Regions from separate parts of the Homo sapiens genome. Here all the other regions are linked to region 2. The links come from fine-mapping of genetic effects on gene expression. A gene starts in region 2. Each other region holds a variant in brackets. All regions are shown on one strand. Distances are between the middles of the regions. Region 1 overlaps LRFN2 (leucine rich repeat and fibronectin type III domain containing 2). Region 2 holds the start of LRFN2 (leucine rich repeat and fibronectin type III domain containing 2). Region 3 overlaps LRFN2 (leucine rich repeat and fibronectin type III domain containing 2). Region 4 overlaps LRFN2 (leucine rich repeat and fibronectin type III domain containing 2).

The links.
Region 1: its variant is fine-mapped to the expression of LRFN2 in whole blood (INTERVAL, PIP above 0.99). The same link has a PIP of 0.9 or more in CD4 T cells.
Region 3: its variant is fine-mapped to the expression of LRFN2 in whole blood (TOPMed, PIP above 0.99). The same link has a PIP of 0.9 or more in blood mononuclear cells.
Region 4: its variant is fine-mapped to the expression of LRFN2 in whole blood (TOPMed, PIP above 0.99).

The regions. Positions count from the first base shown.
Region 1 is chr6:40,386,717-40,391,863 of GRCh38, reverse strand. It overlaps LRFN2 (leucine rich repeat and fibronectin type III domain containing 2), which reads left to right. Exons shown (of 3, transcript NM_020737.3): 3 at 1-273. Among named protein-coding and RNA genes, the nearest start is that of TDRG1, 11 kb to the right of the region's middle. The variant AC/C (reference allele first, on the strand shown) is at 2,477.
Region 2 is chr6:40,584,170-40,589,316 of GRCh38, reverse strand. LRFN2 (leucine rich repeat and fibronectin type III domain containing 2) reads left to right here and starts at 1,953. Exons shown (of 3, transcript NM_020737.3): 1 at 1,953-2,376. RefSeq lists silencers at 1,521-1,590, 1,681-1,780.
Region 3 is chr6:40,406,581-40,411,727 of GRCh38, reverse strand. The region is part of intron 2 of LRFN2 (leucine rich repeat and fibronectin type III domain containing 2); the gene reads left to right. It also overlaps the pseudogene RNU6-250P. Among named protein-coding and RNA genes, the nearest start is that of TDRG1, 31 kb to the right of the region's middle. RefSeq lists an enhancer at 1,719-2,220. The variant T/C (reference allele first, on the strand shown) is at 2,319.
Region 4 is chr6:40,417,149-40,422,295 of GRCh38, reverse strand. The region is part of intron 2 of LRFN2 (leucine rich repeat and fibronectin type III domain containing 2); the gene reads left to right. Among named protein-coding and RNA genes, the nearest start is that of TDRG1, 41 kb to the right of the region's middle. RefSeq lists enhancers at 1,607-2,242, 2,243-2,878, 2,879-3,515 and a silencer at 2,592-2,886. The variant A/G (reference allele first, on the strand shown) is at 2,998.

The DNA of each region.
Region 1 (5,147 bases), 200 kb after region 2:
TTCCATGGTGATGTTTACATCCAGGGACAGTTTCGTCTCCCTGTCAATGGCCTCGTGTCCCCCCCTACCCCGCAACACCCACATCACCTCCCCACCACCCGGCCGGGGTGTGCTCAGGGAATGTGGACTCGCTCAAATGCCGGACTGAGCCCTGAGTGTTTGGAAAGGCGAGACTCCGCCTTTCTAATCACAAATGTAGCCTACAAGCAAGCGGCTTTGGATTGCTTATGGGTCTAGTGTTGTTTTTATTTCTTAATTTATTTTTTTTCCATTTCCCAGACTCCTCCTCTTCATTCACACGAATAATCGAGAGTTAATCGTACATATGAATGTGTGTTCCCAGCAGCCCTGGTAGTGGGTAATTGTTGCCAATTGACAAGAGGAGGGAATTATTCTGTTTCCACACTTGTTTGGGGGAAGACTGTGGGGTTCCCTGCTCAGAGCTCTCATTACTCCCAACCACCCCACACCCGACACTGGAAGGGGTGAGTGACTGACCCCCGATACCTGACCTAGTTTCCTTTGCTTCTCAAACATGACATGCCACACCCATCACAGAAGCTTAAACCAGAAGGGTAATTTCCTGGGTTCTTACGTGTGGGGAGGGAGGAGGGCTTCATGCTATAGGGCACAAGGGATCTTAACTTCTGGAGTTGCTTTGGGCTTGTTGCCACTCTTTCTGGGAAGCTGGCATGGAAAGTCCCCCTTGAGCATGTGGCAGGCCAGGAGGGCTTCTCTTAAGGAAAGCAGCAGGGGTGGCAGAAACAGCAGTGGACTTGGAGTCCGAAGTTCTGTGTCTGGGCTCCACAGTCACATGAATAGCCAGCTGAATAACTGGGGCAAGACCCTTTTATCTGTTGGGACCTGAATTTCTCAATTTGCAAAAATACTGGGATTGTACTAGGTCTCCAGTCCCTTTCCAGTTCTATAGGCCTATTAATTATTCATGACTCTAGATGTTAGGCTTTTTTGCTTAGTGACACCAGAAGCACAAGCTGGTTACAGCAGTGCCCCTCCTTTTTACTGGACACAGAGAATTCTAGAAGCCTTGGAGGGGGAAAGCTGAATCTTTTTAGAATCATAGGCTTTTGAAGCTTGGGGAGGTGTTTGCAATCATCCCATCTTTAACCCTCCCTCTCCCTTCCAGAGAGCATAAAGGAATTGCCGAGGGTCACACAGTGAGTTCATGACCAGGTCAGGGTAGAAGCCAAGGCCACCTGCCTCCTGGCAGTGGTATTTGGGATCCATGACCCTGTCTTCACTCTGCCTAGGGCTTTTCTGTGTCCAAAGGCTGTCCCATGTTTGTTCCTTAAGAAAGTGGCTCAGGGTGGGATGGGGGGATGCCTGCTCTTGGTTTCTTGAGGAGGGTCCATCCTTGGAAATTACAGGGTGGAATGGGAGGGGTGCATAGACTCCTTTCCATCTAGGGATAACCCCTCCCTGCCAGACAGTGGCAAGAGAAGGGGAAGAGGAGATGTGCCCACGGAGAACCTGCTGTAGACAGATTGGAATGACTTTCCCCGGCATCCCTGTCCCATGTCTACTCATCAGCAATTCACTACCTCTCCCTCAGTCTCTCCAACTCATTCTTTCCTCTCCCAACTCCTTCCATAGACCTCTATTTTCTCTCTTTTGTTCTTCCTTCTTCCACTTGCCAACCACGCAGCCTACAAAGCATACAGGCAAGACCATTCTGGACCAAAAAGTTCCAATGGCCTCAGACCTGGACCCGAGCTGCTGGCCCCCAACCCCACTCTGGAACACACAAGGAGGGATTTGCAACTGTCTATGAAGAATTACCTTCGGCTCTAGTCCCAGAGCCTCCAAATCCCAGGCCTTCCTCCTTCCTCACTCTCCTCCCTCCCCTCTCTTCTCTTCATCCTTCTTTTTTTTTCTCCTTTTACTCTCTGCCTTTCCCAGTCCCTTTCTGGTCCTGACAAGGTCATTAACAGATCAGGCCAGTCCCTCCTGAGACCTCAAGTTATAATAATTTTCGAGGCCAGTCCCAGGGCTGAAGCACATCCTTTCTATGGTCACAGAAGCACCCACAGAATTGGGCAACTTGAAAGGAAATCTCTTCCACCCTTTCTCTTTTCCCTTCCTGTTTTTTCCTCTTCTCTTTTCTCCCTCCTCATCTTTCTCATTCATCCTTTCAAACTATAGCCATTGTGGAAGTGGTCTCAAACACCAGCTTTCTTTTTGGCCTTTGGATTCAGACACACAGAGGGAAGGTGGTGAACAGTGGAAGGAACCAACTGACTGTCTATTCTCATCAGCGGTTCCGAGTTCTATCGTGACATGATATGTACTTGCTCTTGTGTTTGTCATGTTTCTGACTTGGAGTTTTGGAAAGCAGCATCCCTGTGGTCAGAATATAAATGCCAATCTTCTCCTTTGCTAGAAAAAAAATGTACAGTAAAATGTACAGTTTTAAAAACAACCACTAACCACACTCCTTGGGCGGGGGAAAAAAAAA[AC/C]ATTCTTATGTCTGTGAATGTCTGCTGTTCATTTCTCTGGAAACTCTGGGGTTTTCTAAAGATGGCTTTGAAGTGGCATTTTCTCTTGCACCTGTGTTTGTTACTGCCTGGTGGGAGCCTGCTTCTTGCCAAGTTCATGTATAAGGTGGGGGAATCTTCTGAAATAATAGAAAATGGGATCATCTTCCCAGAGTAAAGAAAGGTAGAGAAATCTGAAGAGAAGCTTCAGGCTAAGAAAAGAACAGTCCATCCCCAGCTGTCCTGACTGTCCTACCTGACATCTCCATTCTCTGATATACCAGCCCTACCTACTTTTTCCTGGACTGTGGTCACCACAACACCTGACTACTAGGGGCATGTAGGTATCTTCTACCCGTTTTGGTTGAGCCCTGGATGGTATTTTTTTCAAAAGGGTCTTTTACTGGGAAACCATGGGAGAACAAACCAAAACCCAAACTCAAGGTATAGAAACAAACATGCTTCTGGAACACAGCTTCCCAACCTTGTCTTTTCTAGTATCTAGATCAGCACTGTCCAATAGAATAAAATGTAAGCCGCATTGTAATTTTAAATTTTCCAGTAGCCATGTTGAATCAAATATAAAGAAACAGGTGGAATTAATTTTAATCTTATATTTTAACTCAATATATCCAAAATATTATTGTAACATGTAATCACTCAAATTATTAGTAAGTTATTTTATGGTATTTTTTGGTACAAAGTTTTAGAAATCTGATTTGTATTTTACATGTATGGCATATATCAATTCAGATGAGCCCTCTTTAAAGTATTTTACATGTATGACACATATCAATTCAGACTAGCCCTCTTTAAAGTACTTGAGAGCCATATGTGGCTAGTACTGGCCACTGTACCAGACAGTGCGACTCTAGACATACAATTGACTTGAAAGCACAGCTTTTAGAAGAGGAAGGAAACTGACAATTATTGAGTACCTACAGCTTCCAGTTACTGTGCTTGTTGCTTCAAATATGTTTCTCACTGAATCATCACTAAAACCTTTTTAGGTAGATAGTATTATGCCCATATTATAAATGAAGGGACTGAAGCTCAGAGGGGTTAAGTAACTTGCCCAAGGTCACACAGTTAAGTCTGGCTGCAAAGCCTTAGTTCTTCCCATGACATCACACTGCCTTCCCATCCTTTCTTCTTCCCGTCAACCTGTTATAGATTGTATTTTATACTGACTGAATGATTCACATTTGTAGCCTAATCAGGAAACCCTTGACTAGCCTAAGATCTGCGAGAAACCTCAGAGTGTTAATTCCAGGCAAGAGCACCTTGGTGAAGCAGTTCCTTCTGACCGTACACCGGCCTTTCTGGCCCTCCTTGCCTTGAAACACGTTCCCTCCCCTGGCCAGGAAAATTCCTCAGGATTCAGACTGCACTGCCCAGCCCACCCTGTGGTCACCCCTTCTTCCCTCTTGGTGACCTCTAGGAGGTTGCTTGTTGAATGAGCCTTCCATCTCCAGTCTTGTCTGGGCTGCTCTGCCCCAGGAGCCTATAACTTCTTCCCCCTAAGATAAAAAGCCTGACAACAGCTTGCTTCAGAGACAAAACCCATCTTCTCGCCTCTTTCTATTTTAATACCCCTGTCCCTATCAGGTAAGATACCTACCCAGATCCTCTTTCCTGATATACAGAAGCCTCCAGCTCTTCAATCTTTTGCAGAGGTGAGATAGCTGATACAATATTTGCCTAGTTGATTATTAAGCTTTCTGGAAAAACAGTTTGACCCCTTTCCCCACATTCTCGATAATGACATATCCCTCAGGTTTCCCTCAAGAGAATTTTCTATTTTTTCACCATTACAGTGTTGAAATTCGAAAAGACCTCAGGAACACTTTTTTGTTAAGGGATATAATTGTCAGCCAGGCTAGGCAACAGTCACTGTCTCAGGATTCCCCCTTCCCAAATGCAAAGTAACTTTTCTTTAAAAGTCTGTGAGTATTGATTTTTCATAAGTACAGCCTGAGTACTTCTGTATCTTCTGTTCTCAGTGTGCCTGCAGTGAAGGTCTCAGGGCTTCAGCAAGCTGGGTGGGGCTTTCTCTGTTCTTACAACCAGTGGGATTTCTGCAAACTGCTGCCAGAAAAATAGACACACTTATTCAAAAGAAGAGACTATTGGCAGGCAGCACTCAAAACCTGCATACACCGTTTTAAAGATCCCACCTAGATTATCAAACCTAGCCTTTCCATGTGATGCAGTTGGCAGCAAGAAGAATTTGTTGTGACAAGGAGGCTTCTCACAGGTAAATACCTGAGGTTTCTACCTTTGCATAATAGAATCAGGCCCATCCAGGTTACTGCCCCAATATCTAAAAGGAACCCTGTCACTTTCACAGTTTAAAAATATCTATTTGTGCTTTCAGCCCTTAAACCAAAGGTTGTAGCTTCCATCATCTCAATTAAGGTTCTGTACCTCACAGTCAGTCAATGTTTACAAGGCTCGTGGTTTCCCTTCCCTGAAGCTTCTATCAGAGAGAAATTGGCATGTTTTCCCCAGACCAAAGAGAGAAGCTAGCTTTTACCTCTAAGGCTATCCTGTGACCCCTATCATAGCTATTTAGGAACTTCTGACAGGTTCAGTGATCTTTCTCCATGTTCTCATTTTGTATAATGTGTGACATCTTTCTTTTGCTCACCT
Region 2 (5,147 bases):
CTGCCACTCCGTTCTGGTTGTCTCATGGGTGACTGAGGGTTAGGGGAGATAACCTAGCCCACTGCCCCCAACCCTTGGGAGAATTCAAAGGCTTGAGCCCAGGCTGTGGTTCTTCCTAAGCCTTTCTTCCTGGGAGCTCCCGCCAATAGTAGGCAAGCCCTCAGGTAAGCAAAGAGTAAGGCAGTTTCCCTGCTGTTCTCCCCTCCTTCTTCCCTTCCCCTTCCTCTTCCCTACTTGCCCTCCCCAGTTTCTACTCCACACCTCCTTTTACTCACCTCTTCCTTCCTCATTACTTTCCTTCTCATGACTCTTCCCTACCTCTATCCCTCACTCCCTGCTCCTGAGTTAGATCCCTTCTCTCCAAGGCCCACCCCATATACCTTGAGTTTCATCTTGGCCATGCCCCTCCCCCACCAGGCTTTCCAGAATTCCTGCAGGGAGAGGCTTGTCTTCAAGGATATGCAGCATGCCAGTTTGGCAGTTTCCCGGGGTGCACATGTGGAGGGTGCACACATGAGGACCAGCTGCCTCGGCTTCTGCAGTTATGCATGTGTGTAGAGAGGACACAGGGTCGTATGTTACAGATGTATCCAGCCGAGCCAATCCTGGGCTGCAGAGACACATCCACATGCAACATGTGCCTCCCTGTGGGTAACCGGGACAGGTGCACGGGATGTGTTAGCCACCAGGAGAGAAGAGAAGGACTGCAACATTGACATTCTTCCTGCCCCTGGATTTACCAGCTGGAGTACCAACAGGAATCTCAAAATTTCATTTCCTTTAGAAGGAAGGAAATGCCTCTTGGGGAGTCCAGTAAGGCAGAGGACGGTCCTACCTTTCTGGTAACTAGTTGTTTATAGTGAACCGAGAGGATAACCAAAGACGAGACCTTGGCCAGACCTGGGTGTTCTGACTGTGAGCTCACAGTCTGCTTTGAGTAGGGTCTCCGCTACCTACCACATGCCTTGGACAAGTCACTTTACTCTTTTGGGCCTCAGTTTCCTTATACATCAAATGAGGGTTGCTGAGAAGATCAAACAAGTGAAGAGTTGTAAAGATGCTGTGCAAACACTTGGCGCCACTGCACCCTTCACTGATTCTTGTAATAATCATGAAAAGTCAAAGTGCGTGTGTGTGCGTGCACGGGGCGCTCGTTATTCATAGGTCCCTTACCAGGATTCGAGAATCTGAACTGGGCCCCAGGACTGGGTGGGCGCGATCGCCCCAGCCCCCACTCCCAGCCTAGGGCCGGCGCGGTCGGGTTTTCCTCCAGCAGGCGGCGGGCTGACGGCTGCAGGGCGCGCTAGGCACGTGAGGTGGCAGCGCCGTCGCCAGCTGCAGAGGTGCAGCCCTGGCCGCCCGGCTCGCCTTCCGCAGGGGCTGCCCGTGCCGCTGGACCGCGGAGACCGCCCTCCCGGTTCCGGGGCTCGCGGCCTGCCCACCTCCCTCCGCGACTGCGGCCCCAGCCCACTCCCGCCCCACCGTGCGTCCCCGCGCCACCCCTGCCAGGACCGTGAATCCCTCTGGTTTCCGCGGCGGTGTTGGTCGTCTCGGAAGCGGGTGCGCTCGGCAGCGGGCAGGGCAGCGGGCGCAGAGGCTGCCTTCGGCTCCTGCAGCTCCGCGGTTCGCCACTGGGGGCTGCCGCGCCGGAGAGCTCGGCGGGGACGGTGCGCACGGCCGCCGGGTTCCTGGGCGCCTCTGGCCGCTGGGTTTTCTCCACTGCTGGCCCTGCGCTGTCTCCGCAGCCCGCCCGACTCCCTCCCAGATTGGAGCGTGTGATCCGTGTGTGTGTGTGTGTGCGTGTGTGTGTGTGTGTGTGTGTGGAGCGGAGAGAGAAACCGGGTACGCGCGTATGCGCGCGCGCGTGGGGGGCAGTGTGCATGCGGGGAGTACGGGGGAGTGTGTTTGTGTGTGCGTGTGGGTGTGAGTGCCTGGCTCCCTCTCGCTGAGACACACATACACTCACACATACACAACCCGGCAGGCTCGTCTGAACTTGAAGACACCCCACATTCCAAGATGCCCGAGGTTCCTGGGAATGCCTGGGGTTCTTCGATCCGGAAAATCCTACCGGCATCCTCCTAGGGAGGGATTATTATTATTATTTTTCTTTAATCTGGAAGAGAAGAGAACAAGTTGTGCTTTTCCCCCCTTCTTCTTGCTAAATGCCATGGATATAACTGAATAAGCGGCTCAGGGCTTTCCCCGCGTGGACGTCCGAGGCCACCATCTGCCTGCATTCGCCGGAGCCGCCGGAGGGTTTAGCTCGAGTCTGTCTCGGGCGGGGAAGGATGCGTGGCCGAGCCGGGGAGCCCGGGCGCCCCGCGGAGCCGGCCTCGGTGCCACCCAGCCGGGGGTAGATGCTGCCTCGCCCAGGTGAGTGGTCGCCGGCGCTGCGTCTTTGCGATCCCGGGTGTCCGCGGGAGCTCGGCGCGGGGCTGAACGCACCCGAGGGAACCGGGAACTTTGCATCCCTTTCTTTTTCTCTTGAAGACTCCCCGCATCCTAGGTGCTCATGCGGACACCCCCTTCTCTTTTCGCCCATCCTTATCGCGAGAGATTTCCTTTCCTTTCTTTAGTCTTTATTTCCTACAGTGGGGGTGAAACTCTGGCGGGGAGCGGGGAGAGCCGGGTCCATGTGAGACTGGAGAGCCGGATGGAGAGACGGGGAGCCACGGGTGGATGGAACCGTTGAAAACAGCAGGAGAACTTTGCCGCCAGACCACTCTGTTGCATCTCCGCACATGCAAGGCCTGGCTAGAGCCATTGCTGGGGGCTAGGTGGGGGCGCCGGGGACTCCCTGAGCTCTGTGGACTGGGTGGGGTGGGGTAAAGCCAAGTGCGGAAGGGTTGATGCAGAGCGGATGGGAGGAAGGAAGGCATGGTTGCAGTTTGTGGGGGCAGGTAGGGCAGGTTCAGGGACCCTATGCTGGCCTCAGGCAGAAAGCAGATCAGGGGGATTGTGTGTGTGTGCAGCTTGGGGCATCAGAATGGCATGATGAAGCAATATGGAAAGTGGCATTAGCCATGCCTGGGTTCCTAGGTCTCTGTCTCCCACCCAGCCCTGCCCTGGTTCTAAGGTTGGCCTGGGCAGGGAGGAGGGAGAGCAGTAGACCGTTCCGAGGTGGACAGTGCCTTACTTTGCACAGACCTTCTGAGGGAGGTGTCCTACTCGTCTTCCCATCAGCCCGGTACAAAGGACAGAGACAGAGAGTTCTAGGGAGATAGAGCCTCTGAAAACCAGAGCAGGAGGGAGAAGAGAGCCTGAGTGGAGACCGCAGAGGGACTGAGCCAGACTGTTGCCAAATGCACCCGGCGACAGCAGACAGCTGCAGACGGACAGACACCTGCAGGGACAGGGAACATGTCAGAGCCTGCACTCTTGAGTTGGAGTTACAGGCATGGCTATAGATGATGACCCCCTCCCCTGGCCACAATGGAGTGTGTGTGTGTGTGTGTGTGTGTACGCGTGTGTGTGTGTACGCATGTGTATGTTTCAGGGAGGTGGCAGCTGTGGCCTCCATGGCCTGATTGGCCTTCTAGTACTGGGGGAGGGGGAAGCTTCAGGAATTTGACCCCCTGCTGCTGGGGAGGAGCAAAGCTAGGGAGGAAACTGCCATTCCCTGGGCTGTGAAGTTCCCAGGGGCCAGGGCTAGAGGTTCTATGTGGGCTGTTATTCTTGTGTGGGGGCCGATTTGGAACTCAAGGTGGGGAGCAAGGGAACTAGGTCTTGGGGTTGTGCCCTGGTCTGGTCGCTGCCCTCTGGCAGGAGCTTTATATAGCCACACACAGCAGAGCCCTGAGGGTAGTGTCATTTCCTTGTGGGGTACATCAGAGGCTGAAGGGGGTCAGAGTCCTGTAGGGAGGATTCAGAAGCTCCAAAAGGCCTGCACTTGGAGCCGTCATCCTCCGCCGACCATGCCAGCTGCCTGGGCCCTTCTGCTGATGCTGGAATGTCATCTTTCCCTTCTGACTCTGGCTGGGAGTGCAGAGTTGCATCTCCCTCTGGCCTCCTCACATGCTTCTGCTCAGGCCCCCTGCCCAGCCCTCAATTTAGAGTTTCTGGTCTAATTCCTGACCAGGAATGTAATTATTTATCTTCCTGCCCTCATCCTGGGGATGCAAACAGCAAACTTGGCATTTCTGTTTCAGCCTCTGGAAGGTTGGCTCCCAGTTCCATCTCCTGTCTAGAAGAACTGGGTGCCTGCCTGCTGTGGGCTGGAGGCTGGGGTTCAGGGCTCCTTCTTCTGTGAAGTGCCAGTTCTTTGCTCAGGCCCAGAAACGTGAGAAGCTGGGGAGTCTGGCCTGAGAGAGGGTGAGCTGGGAGCTTCCAGGAGGTGAGGCTGAGGAGGAGAAGCAAGATAGATGGGAAGAAAATGCAGTCAGAGTGGGTGGGGCCACCGGGGAAACCAGGCAGCCTTCTGGCCAACTGAGTCCTTCTTTGACTGAAGGAGGAATTGCTCTTCTTATCTTTGCTTCAGCTCCAAAGGAAAAAAAAAAAACAGGGATTCTGGCCTCCAAGTGCCAGTTTGCCAAGCCTCTTCAGCCTGTGGGGTTGAGCAGGTTCTGCTCTCCTTTTTTGCAGGGTGGATGTATAGAGGCTTATAAGCTCCTGGCGTGGGGTCTGTCTACCCAGGGACAGTGGAGAAGTGAAATTGGAATTAATTGTTTTCAGAAACTCCCCTTTCCTAAGGTAGATATTAGCATCTAGGGAGTTCACAGTCTGATGGGGGAGGCTGCTAGACTGGAAGCAGAGACATATAGCAATAAACAACCTGGGATGGCCAAGTGGAATTGGACTCTGAACAAGAGCAACAACAATTTGAGTATTTTGTGATTTTCCTTTGGGTAGGGGTGGAGTTTTAGGGTCCAACTTATTGAAGGGATAGAGTTGTCATATAATGGAATGAAACCTCAACTTGGGTGGCCTGGGTTCAAATTCTGGCTCTGCCATATCTTGGTTAACAATGTGAGTCTTTGTGTTTTGACCTGGTAAAATAAAATAATAGCATGTACCCAATAGATGTATTATGACCTGATGTTTTCCTGGCAGTCCCCAAACCGCTTTTCAGATCTGGGAGAGTCTTCAGTGGAAACAGGGAGGGTTGGAAGGGAGAGAGAGTTCTTCAGAGACATGGAGGATAGTAC
Region 3 (5,147 bases), 180 kb after region 2:
TGGGATTTGAGGAAAGACTTGAAGGGGAGCTGGACTGAGGTCTGTGGGAAGGGCCCTCCAGGCAGAAGGAAGAGCCAGGGCAAAGCCTCCATGGCTGGAGTGTTTCTGAGGAGCAACGAAGAGGCCAGGGTGGCTGAAGCACAGAGTGCAGGGCAGGGTGGGCGAGATGGGGCAGAGAGGCAGTGGGGCCAGACCCCACAGGGCCATGTGGCCTTTGTAAGGACGCTGATTCGAGTGTTCACCCGACCTGTGCATGTTCACAGGTGCTCACAGCCTCAGGTCAATCCTTTTCCCTGCTCACATGCCCAGGGCTGCTTCCACGCTGGCCAGTGGACGCACAGTCACACTCACATACGTACCTACACGCACACACTGGCCAACGGCCACTCACTCACACAGCCCCCCTACTCCTACCGTGCCCGTTTGGGGTTCACCCTCCACTGCACCTGCATGTACCCCAGCAGAGCAGGGACGACTCCTCATCAGCCTCACTCCCATCTGCCACCCAGAATGGCCTCTCCCCAGCTGGAGCAGGAGAGGGAGGAGAGTGAGCCAATTTCTGGGGCTTCAGACCCATGCACCTCAATAAACAGTGCTGGAGAGACTCCCAGAAAATTACAGATGAGATAAGTCTGTGATTTACTCACACGTGATTTATTTACATGATTACTTCCACACTAAGATGACAGGCCCATATGGCCATCCTCCAGGGACCCTGGTGTGCAATTAATGGCTCTGTTCTGTGTTCATTGTCCCCATAGGCCCTGGCTGCTCCCAGACTTGGGGCAGGACAGAGGAAGGAGGATAATTACACTGCTGCTTTTAGTAATTCACAGGCAAAATCAGGATGGTGCACCTCTAGGCTAGGCCAGCCCCACCTTAAAGCTCCTGGCTAATGAACAAATCCCATAGGAAGGCTCCTCTGCCCATCTGGCAGAGACCCCAACCCCTAAAACTACCTGTGCCCTCAGGCGGCTCATCTTCTGCCACCAGGAGGGGTCCTGCTGCGAGGTGGGTGGAATGGATGGTGTTAGTCTGTAAGAGATGATAGAAAGATAAATAGAAGATAGACAATAATAAAGTATGTAAGCATTCACTATATATATAAATGATTTATTGAGTATATATTGTATGCCAGTGCTTGGTGTACATTACTTCTGATCCTCATATAACTCTGCAAATTGGGTTTGCAAACTGCTTTTACAAATAAGAAGACAAAAGCTACGGAAAGTTAAGTAAGGGAGTAAAGATATAGTCAATAAATTGTGGAGATGGGATTTGAGCCCAGGTCACTTTGATGCTAACTCCTGTGTGCTTTCGGGGTCAGGGACGTGCTGCTGCCCCTACTTCCACAACCCCAATATCCCATCCCCTTCCTCCTGCCTCCCCCGTGCTCCCATCACCCCTCTTCCAGTGATGTTCTTGTGAAATTCTAGAATGTTAAAAGCACAGAGAAGGAAAGTGAATTGCTCAAGGCTGAACAAGTCATGACAGAGTGGGAGTTAGAGCCTCATCCTCCAGCCTGGACATGAGGATGGCTGGTGGGTGGGGACGGCTCTGCTCCCCCACCCTCCCTCCTGCTGACTCCAGGGTTGGGAGTGCATCAGGACCTTCCACTTGGCTGGACAGAGTGGGGCTTCCCAGCTGCCCACCTGAGACCTCCTGCTATAGGTCGTCACTCTCCCCACCCTTAATTAATTCCTTCCTGAGCAGACTGCTTGTTAGAGACAGAGGTATCCAGGGAGAATCAGCAGAAACACAGCCCAGCGAAGTGCTGAGTGGGCTCCTCCTGACTGCTGGGTGGAAAGGGCAACTCTCCGTGGGGTGAGGCAGCAGGCAGGATGATGCAGCAACTCAGCAGCCGGATGCCCAGCTAGTCTCTCACCAGGGGGTCTGCCTCCAGGCATGCAGCTTGGAACAGCCCCCAAGGAAGTGTCAATAAGTTTCTCGGTCACTCATTCATGCACGAGTGCTGGCTGTCCCCATTATAAAAAATGGACACCTCACATTTATAAATGCTTCACCACTTACATACTGTGTCCAAGTAGATGTGCGTCTTAGGTTTTCCAGACGGTCCTTTGGGGGAGGTGGTAGTGTTCTCATTCCCGTTTGACAGATGAGGAGGCTGAGATTCAGAGAAGCAAAATCCCTTGTTCAAGATTGCTCAGCTAGCAGATGGTGGGGCCAACATTTGAAACTGATCTTCAAATACCAAATGCAAACATCATCATGGCTTCTTTTTATTGCATAAACATACTCTCAGCAGCATACTCTGTACTGAACAAATATCATAGTACTTAATTTTCACAAAGACACCA[T/C]ATGATTGCTGTTACGAACCCATTTTGCAAGTGAGAAAACTGTGAAGGCGAGGCTCAAACATGGGAAGTGACTCACCAGGCATGGCACAGTCAGTAAACCTTCTTCACTAGAGCACAAATTCACCCTGGGGGTCGATACAGGTTCCTTCTTATGATACAGCTTCTGATCTGACAGAGGGAGATGGTTATAATTGAAGGAAAAGGTGGGGCCCCAATGCCCCTCCATGAAATGACTGAGGGCTTCATTTTACCCAGATTTGCTTTATTAAGGGTGCAATAGTTTGAATGCTTGTGTCCTCTTTGAGATTCATAGGTTAAAACCTAATCCTGGATGATAGGATGAAGAAGTGGAGCCTGTAAGGGGTGATAAAGTCATGAGGGCTTGTGGCTACCGAGGGGGCTCTCTGTCTCTCTTGCCCTTCCACTGCTGCCATGTGAGGATACAGAAAGAAGGCCCTTATCAGACCAAATGCTGGCACCTTAATCTTGGGCTTCCAGCCTCCAGTTCTGTGAGAAAATTTTGTTGCTGTTTTTTAAAAATATAAATTATTCTGTGGTATTCTGTTAAGCAATACAAAGAAACTAAGACAAAGTGTTACTGTTGACTTCACCATTGGCATTGAAACAAAATACAGTGTTTACCATTCCTTCATTTATTGCCAGGCACCCCTAGCATTTAACACACTTTACCTCATTTAGTCCTGACTATATTCCTACACAGTAGGTACTAGTGTTCCTATTTAACTGAGGCAGAGGGTAAGTAATCTGCCTAGGGTCACGCAGCTAGTCATTGCTAGAGCAGGATTTGAACCCAGGCCCAGCTGCTGTGAACCACCATGCTGGATCTTCAGCGACTTCTTCCCAGGCATTTGATTCCTGCCAACTTCTGCTCTGGAGTTGCTCTACTCTTCATCCATTGGGGCACATGTAGAATAGCATCAGATGGCCAGGGGTTCTTTCTACCCCTCCCCAAATGCTGTCTCCTTCCCCAGATCTGACAGGACCACCCAAGCCCATAGACAATAGAACCAAGAAGCCCCTGCCGAGGGTGACTGCCACCCATATGTTCATCAGCCTCCCTGAAGTGACACATCTATTTCCAACAACCTCTCCTCTTCCTGCTCACCTGGTAGAATTGGCTTTGCGATATTTTTTGCCATTTTTTATTGTAAAATATACATAACATTTACCATTTTAACCACATTTGAGTGGACAGTTCACTGGCACTAAATACATCATATTGTTGTGCAGTCACTGTCACCATCCATTTTAGAACTTTTTCATCACCCCAAACTAAAACTCTGTACTCACTAAATAAGAATTCCCCATTCCTCACTCCCCCCAGCACCCAGCAACCACCCTGCTACTTTCTGTCTCTATGAATTTGACTACTCCAGGTCTTTTATATAAGTGGAATCACACAAGATTCACACAAGTTGTAGCATGTACCAGAATTTCATATAAAATGCTTCACAAATTTGCTGTCATCTTTCTGCAGGGGCCATGCTGACCTCTGCATGGTTCCAGTTTTAATGGAAATGCTGCCAAAGAGAGCATACGATAGCATTTTCAAGGAGGCTGGTGCTGGCTTTGCTCCGGGTGATGCCCCCATGAAATTATGGATCTGCCAACTGGCGTGAATGGTCCGACCAGGTTCATCATTAGGTGGTGTTTACTTGGTGTCTGCTGGCTGTTCTAGCGTGACTTGGGCACAGCTGGTGGGGAATCTTCACTTTGCACACGTCTGTGTTTATAACAAGGTATAATTGATCTGACACCTTCTGCATTTTTTCTCCAAGTGATGAGTTGTTGTTGAACAAGCTCTTCTCAGCTCCTCCAGGAGATAAATGACAAGTAGCATCATTGTAGTCATCGCCATTGTGGTACCAGATGACCCAGGAAGGGAGCAGACATGTTTATTCCTATTGTACTTGATTTCTCACACTCACCACAGAAGGCTAGTATTACTCTCCCATTTCACATGTGAGGAAACAGAGGTTCAGAGAGAGGAAAGTCACATGGTCTACAGTCACACATCTGGTCGGGGGCAGAACTAGCCTTCAAAGAGAGATTTCTGTCTGAGTCCAAAGCCTACACTCTTTCCTCTAAGATATGCCAACCCAGTCCCTGGGGGCTGGAAGCTAAGGACAATTAAATACAATTAAATAGAGAAGACTTCTATATCTGTGGAGACCTGAATGAGGACACACACACATACACAGAATGAGAGAGAGAGAGGCAGGCCTTACATGGGCTCAAGAGCTTGCCTGGGTTGGCTGAGCCTGCAGTCGTGGGGACACTGTTTAAGCAATGTGGCTTAACAGCAGTCCTGGGAAAGCACAGGGCCTCTCCATTGACAGTCTGCTCAGTGTGACCACCAGTGGGATGTGGCTTCTAGAGAATCCAGTGTACTTCCAGGGAGGGGGTGGTGTCCACAAGTGTGATGTCTGACTGGGGCAATGTAGGGTCTGACTACTGAGAACCCCCAAAGAGAAGGGCCAAAGACAAACTGACATGTGATCAGGTATGATCAGACGGGGCAGCCTGCCAGCAAACTAGAAACTGTGCTATGAGGAAATGGTTGGAGGAAATGGAAATGTGAATTCTTCAAGGTGGGATGAGAGAGTGGCCTCACAATATGGGAAGCAACAACATGTCCAAAAGAAAGAAACAGGCTTGTTCTGGGCAGCTGTGGGGTTGCATTGGGCTGGTGGGAGGAAGACGCAGTCTGTCAGACCACGGCCCCCATGAGTCACTCAGAGTTGTCCAGAGCTAGGATGACTGCCTGGCATGTCCTGGAAGTGTGTGAGCAGAGGGTGCTGACAGCCA
Region 4 (5,147 bases), 170 kb after region 2:
GGGAATTGGTCTCCAAACTGCTAGTGAGGGAAGAAGCCAGAAGGCCTGGGTTCAATCCCAGCTCTACCATGCACTACTCATCTCTTTGAGATTTGCTTCATCTAACATTGGAAGAAAAAATCTTTTCTCTATGGGGTTATCTCCAAAGAGATAACATATGTGGAAACACTTTGGAAACAAAACACCATGTGCATTTCAGCTCACTGGAGCCATTTTTTTTACCCCTCAGCTGAGTCTGAGTGATTACTATAAGAAAGATGGAATCAGGGGCTCCAGACATGGGCTCTTGAGATCTCCCTTCTCTTTACTTGTCTGAACCTCAGGCTCCTCACCTGCTAAATGGAGATAATGATAACTCACCAGGTTGTTGTAACATTGGAAAGAGATGACAAAGCGTGAAAGAAGAACATCTTCATAAAGTGTGAAGTGCTTCTAGTAGCAGAAATCTGACTTTTCCAAATTTGGGGGTTATTTCCGTCATTCTGAAAACCAAAAATAAAATTCTAAGGCCCACCAACCAATTGAATGAACCCCTCCATTCAGTCAAGAGCATTCCAAAGTTAACCTGAAAAAACTTGGCCATGATAGGAATGAGGAGCCACATGTGCCTCATTATACCCTCCTCTCTTTTGGAATTACTGACAGAACAGACTCTTTAAGTCTGATAAGAAACATTTACAATCTATTTTCTCTGAATCCTGCTACCTGGAGGCTTCATCTGCATGATAAAACCTTGGTCTCCACTACTCTTTATTGTTACCCAGACACTCCTTTTTATTGATAATAACTCAGCCAATTGCCAATCAGAACATCTTTAAATCTACCTATTACCTCAAAGCGACCCACCTCTTGCCTTTCCAGTTTGAACTGATGTACATCTTACATGTATTGATTGATGTATTAGGTCTCCCTCAAATGTATAAAAGCAAGCTGCACCCAGACTACCTTGGGCACGTGTCTCCAGGACCCCCTGAGGCTGCATCATGGGCATGTCCTTAACCTTGGCAAAATAAACTTTCTAAATGGATTGAGACCTATCAGATACTTTTGTGAGTTCACAATTCTGTCAAAGCATTCCAGAAGGAGGTAGTTCAGAGCTGGTATGGGAGCTCCATGGAGTCAGGGACTGAAGCAGGTCAATTGCATTATTCTTAATGTGTGGCTCACTGCTCTTGCTCTTGCTCACATTCTCTACCTGGGGACTTTCTCTGGTGTGGCCTATCCACAGAGGAGTCGCCAACCCTGGGATCAGCCCTCAGCCTTTAACAGAGTTTGGAGGATTAATACCCCAGCTTCCTCAGCCTTGGAGAAAGGCAGATACATGGTCTATGCTCACTCCCAGGGGCTCCCATTAGGGGTGGGCCTCATTGCCCACAGTGGTAACTTGCTTAGCAAAATGCCCTGTGCTGACTTCCTTCCACACTTCCTTACCACAGTTTCCTGAGCCCACCTCCCAAATAAACTACTTGTATTCAAATCCTTGTCTCAGGGTCTGCATCTGGGAAACCCAAACTAAGACAGGCACCAACCACTTTAAAGAATCCCACCCACTGACTTTTGCTGCTAGCTTATTGTATTTCCTCCAGTGCACATTGGAGGCTGAGGAAGGCGATTGTCTGTTCACGCATGTTGCTCCCCATTAGATAAAATAACGTTCTGCCGGGAAGTTAGAAGTGGGGAATGGATGTTGGGGAGGCGTATGATGGCCACAGAGCTGCATGGGCGAAAGCATCGCTGCTGTGAGCATTTCTTGGCACCTGCCCACACAGTCCCAGCAACCAGTAGCCAGTTTGTGGCTGAGGCCAGCCTGGGGGGGAAGCTGATGGGGCTGCTTTCCTGCCTGTCTGTGAGTGTTCTTTTCTCATCTCTGGAGACACAGAGCAAAGCAAAGAGGGAAGCTTACTTCTTGACAATTAGGCCTATGGTCTGGCATGAATGTGTGTGATGGGAGTGGGCACCCTGTGGGTGACAGAAGGGATCACAACAAGAAGTCAAATTAATGTCCACCATCTTCAGGGTCTCAGAGGTGGGGCAGGAAGAATGGCACAAAACCACAGGACGCGATGGGCCACCCCGGGGTGAATGCAGGGCCATGCAGCCAAGCACTGTGGATGAACGAGCTCGTTAACTCTTTACAAAAGAGAGCTATTTCCAGCAGGGGTGGGCTCCAAAGGTGGGCTCCGCTGTGCTCTGCGGCTGTGGGGCTGATGCTGTGGTTAAGAGTGCTGATCCAGATATGCGAATGAACTCCGATTGCATTGTAAAGGAGGTGAGCGGCAGGAAATGAAGCATGGAAGAGATCTGTTAAACACCAAACCTTTGCACTAGGTCATTAGTCAGTAATGGTACTAAGTAAAGGAGCTTCTCAGTTTAGCAATTAGCCCCGCAAAAGGTTAAAACGTAAATGAATTGCTTGGTGAAATTAGTCCACTTGGGCTTTTCCATGAGCTAACTGCCTGGCTTGAGAGGAACATATTCTGGGGGGCTATGAGAGCAGGTAGAGTGGAGTGTAAGCTGTGTCCTGGGGTTAAGGTGGGATTTGGAAGGAAGGAGGCTGTGCGGGGTCAGGGTGAGGGGGTGGTAGCTGTTTTGGGTGAAACCAATGAAGACAGAGACAGAGGCAGGAATGATCAGGCCCAGTCAAAGGCCTGTGAGGGCCCCTGGTGTATTCATCAGCTGCTGCCACAACCATGTTGCATAACAAAGAACCTCAAACTCTAGGTGGCTTACATCCAAGAATATTGAATTTCCTTAGTCATAGCTCTGCAGGTTGGCTGGAGTTGAACTGGTCTGGCCTGGGCTGGGCTGGGCAGGACTGCACTTGGCTTCAGGCTCCAGTTCTGATTTCAATCTTCTCTGTGTATCTCATCCTGGAGCCCCAGGAGAGGGGTAGTGGTTCTCCAGGTATGTTCTTCTCATGGTGATAGCAGAAATGCAGGAAGGCAAGCCCACCTGCAGAAATGAACGTCAAGCTTCTGTTGGTATCACACCTGCAAA[A/G]TCCCGCTAGCCACAGCAAGTTACATGGCCAAGCCCAAAGGCAAGGTGCAGGGAATGAACTGCGCTCAGCATCAATCCATGAAAGGCTGTGGAGGTGCTGCTGTATCACAGGCTGGTAAAGAAACAGGACCAATAATTTGCGACACTTGACTTTCCTGGCAGAAAGCCCCCTTAGAGGGCAGTGGTTCTCAAACCTGAGCAAGCATGAGAATCACCTGGCAGGCTTGTGAACACACAAGTGCAAGACCCTGCCCCTTGAGTTTGTAATTCAGTAGGTACCGAGTGGAGCCTGAGAATTTGCACTTCTAATACATTCTCTCCGGGATGCTGATGCTGCTGGTCTTGGGACTTTACTTTGAGAATCACTGGTCTAGGAAAAGGATAGGAATGCAGAGGTTGGAAGAGGGCAGAGTATGGATAGCCTTGAATGTCACACAAAGTAGCTATGTTTCTGAGCCCTTACTGCACTCCAGGTACTGTTCTAAAGCTGTTCTGCATGTTTTCTTATTTGGACTCATGTTAACCCTATGAGGTGTGATCCATGATTGCCACTTGACAGATGAGGACTCTGAGCCATAGGGAGGTGGCGTGACTTGCAAGGTCTCACAGCTTGGAGGCAGGGGAGCTTGAGCTTGGAACAAGTGCTGTCCTGACTTTGGGCTTCCTCCTGTTGCTGATGAGAAGCCAGGGTCTAGTTCTGAGGGGAAGAATGACCTGGGGTGAGGAAAACTCTGTATTTGGAACCAGATATTCATTTATTCAGTCAATAAATATTTATTGTCTGGTCAAGACCTCAGGATTGGGAAAAGACAGGCACAGCTCTTGCCTAGGGAAGTGATAGGAAGGCAGAGGTGGGAACAGGGAAAAGTATGGGTGGCCTTGAATATCAAGGAGCTTACATTCTTACTGGGGGGAGAGATGAAAAGTTCAAAAATGTACACGAGGAAGAAAAATAAGCAGTGTAACGAGACCGAGACCAGAGGGCTACAGTTTTATATGGGTGGTTAGGAATCGCCTCTGTAAGGAGTGATGTTGGAGTGGAGACCTGAATGGAGTGAAAGAGTCAGGCAGGTGAAACAGCACATACAGAGGCCCTGGGGAGGGATGCATTCATCCTGTTGGAGAAGTGGCAAGGACTCCAGTGCCTCTGGAGGAAGAGTGGCAGTGAATGAGTGAGAAGACTGGACAGGGCTAGATTACATAGGCCCTTGCTGGCCATGATGAGGCCTCGGATTTTATCTTGAATGAGACGGAAACCTCTGGGGCTGGGGCTGGGGAGATTTGAAAGTAGGAGACTGGCATGATGTGATTAAGAAAGAAGATTCTGCTGCTGGTTGGAGAATATACCGCAGCAGGCAGGGATAGCATCAGGGAGACCAGTTACGGGATGGTTGCAGAGTTTTAGCTGTATCTTGAGACCCTGTTGCTCCTGAATGTTCACATCCATAAAATGGGAGAAGGACCCCTTCTTTCTCTCCCACTTGGGGCAGGAGGAGATTAGGGTGTGCGCCTGTGAGTGAGCAGGAAGTACTTAGGTAGGGAACAAAGCAGCATGTTGTCATGATTTTTCTGGCAGAATCCTTGGGCCTATGTCTGCCCAGCCTGGGAACCTCACTGAGGCCCAACTCATAGCCGTGAGTGGAGAGGAGTTTTGGATCTCCCCCTGCAGAGCAGAGCATCCCACGCCATCACTGACCCAGCTCCTCTGTCAGCATTCCCCACCCCCTCTACCCCACAACCTTGTACTCTGATAGGGAGTAATTATTTATATTTTTGCTTAATTAGCTCATTAGGTGTGTGCTGTGGCATTTCTGACAATAAATCACCTACTCTAGTAGCTCATAAGTGCATTTTTGGCTGGTGCCTGGCCCTGGCAATGAAGGTGGCAGTTGTCATACATGAATGTGGCCCTTGGTCAGGGGCTCAGTGACCTGTGCTCTGACTCCCAAGGTGTGCGTGGACAGGTCGGGAGGCTGCCGAGGCACTGAGCATGGAGACAGGATCTTGGAAGCTGAGATGGTGGCAGCAGCGGCAGCCGGCACTGAACACCAGATATTTTTACCACCCGTCAAAATGCCACCGCGTGTGAGCCAGTGCCAAGGGCTGCTTCCCAAGGCTGCTTTGCTCTCCTCCCTCAAGCTTTGATTGTT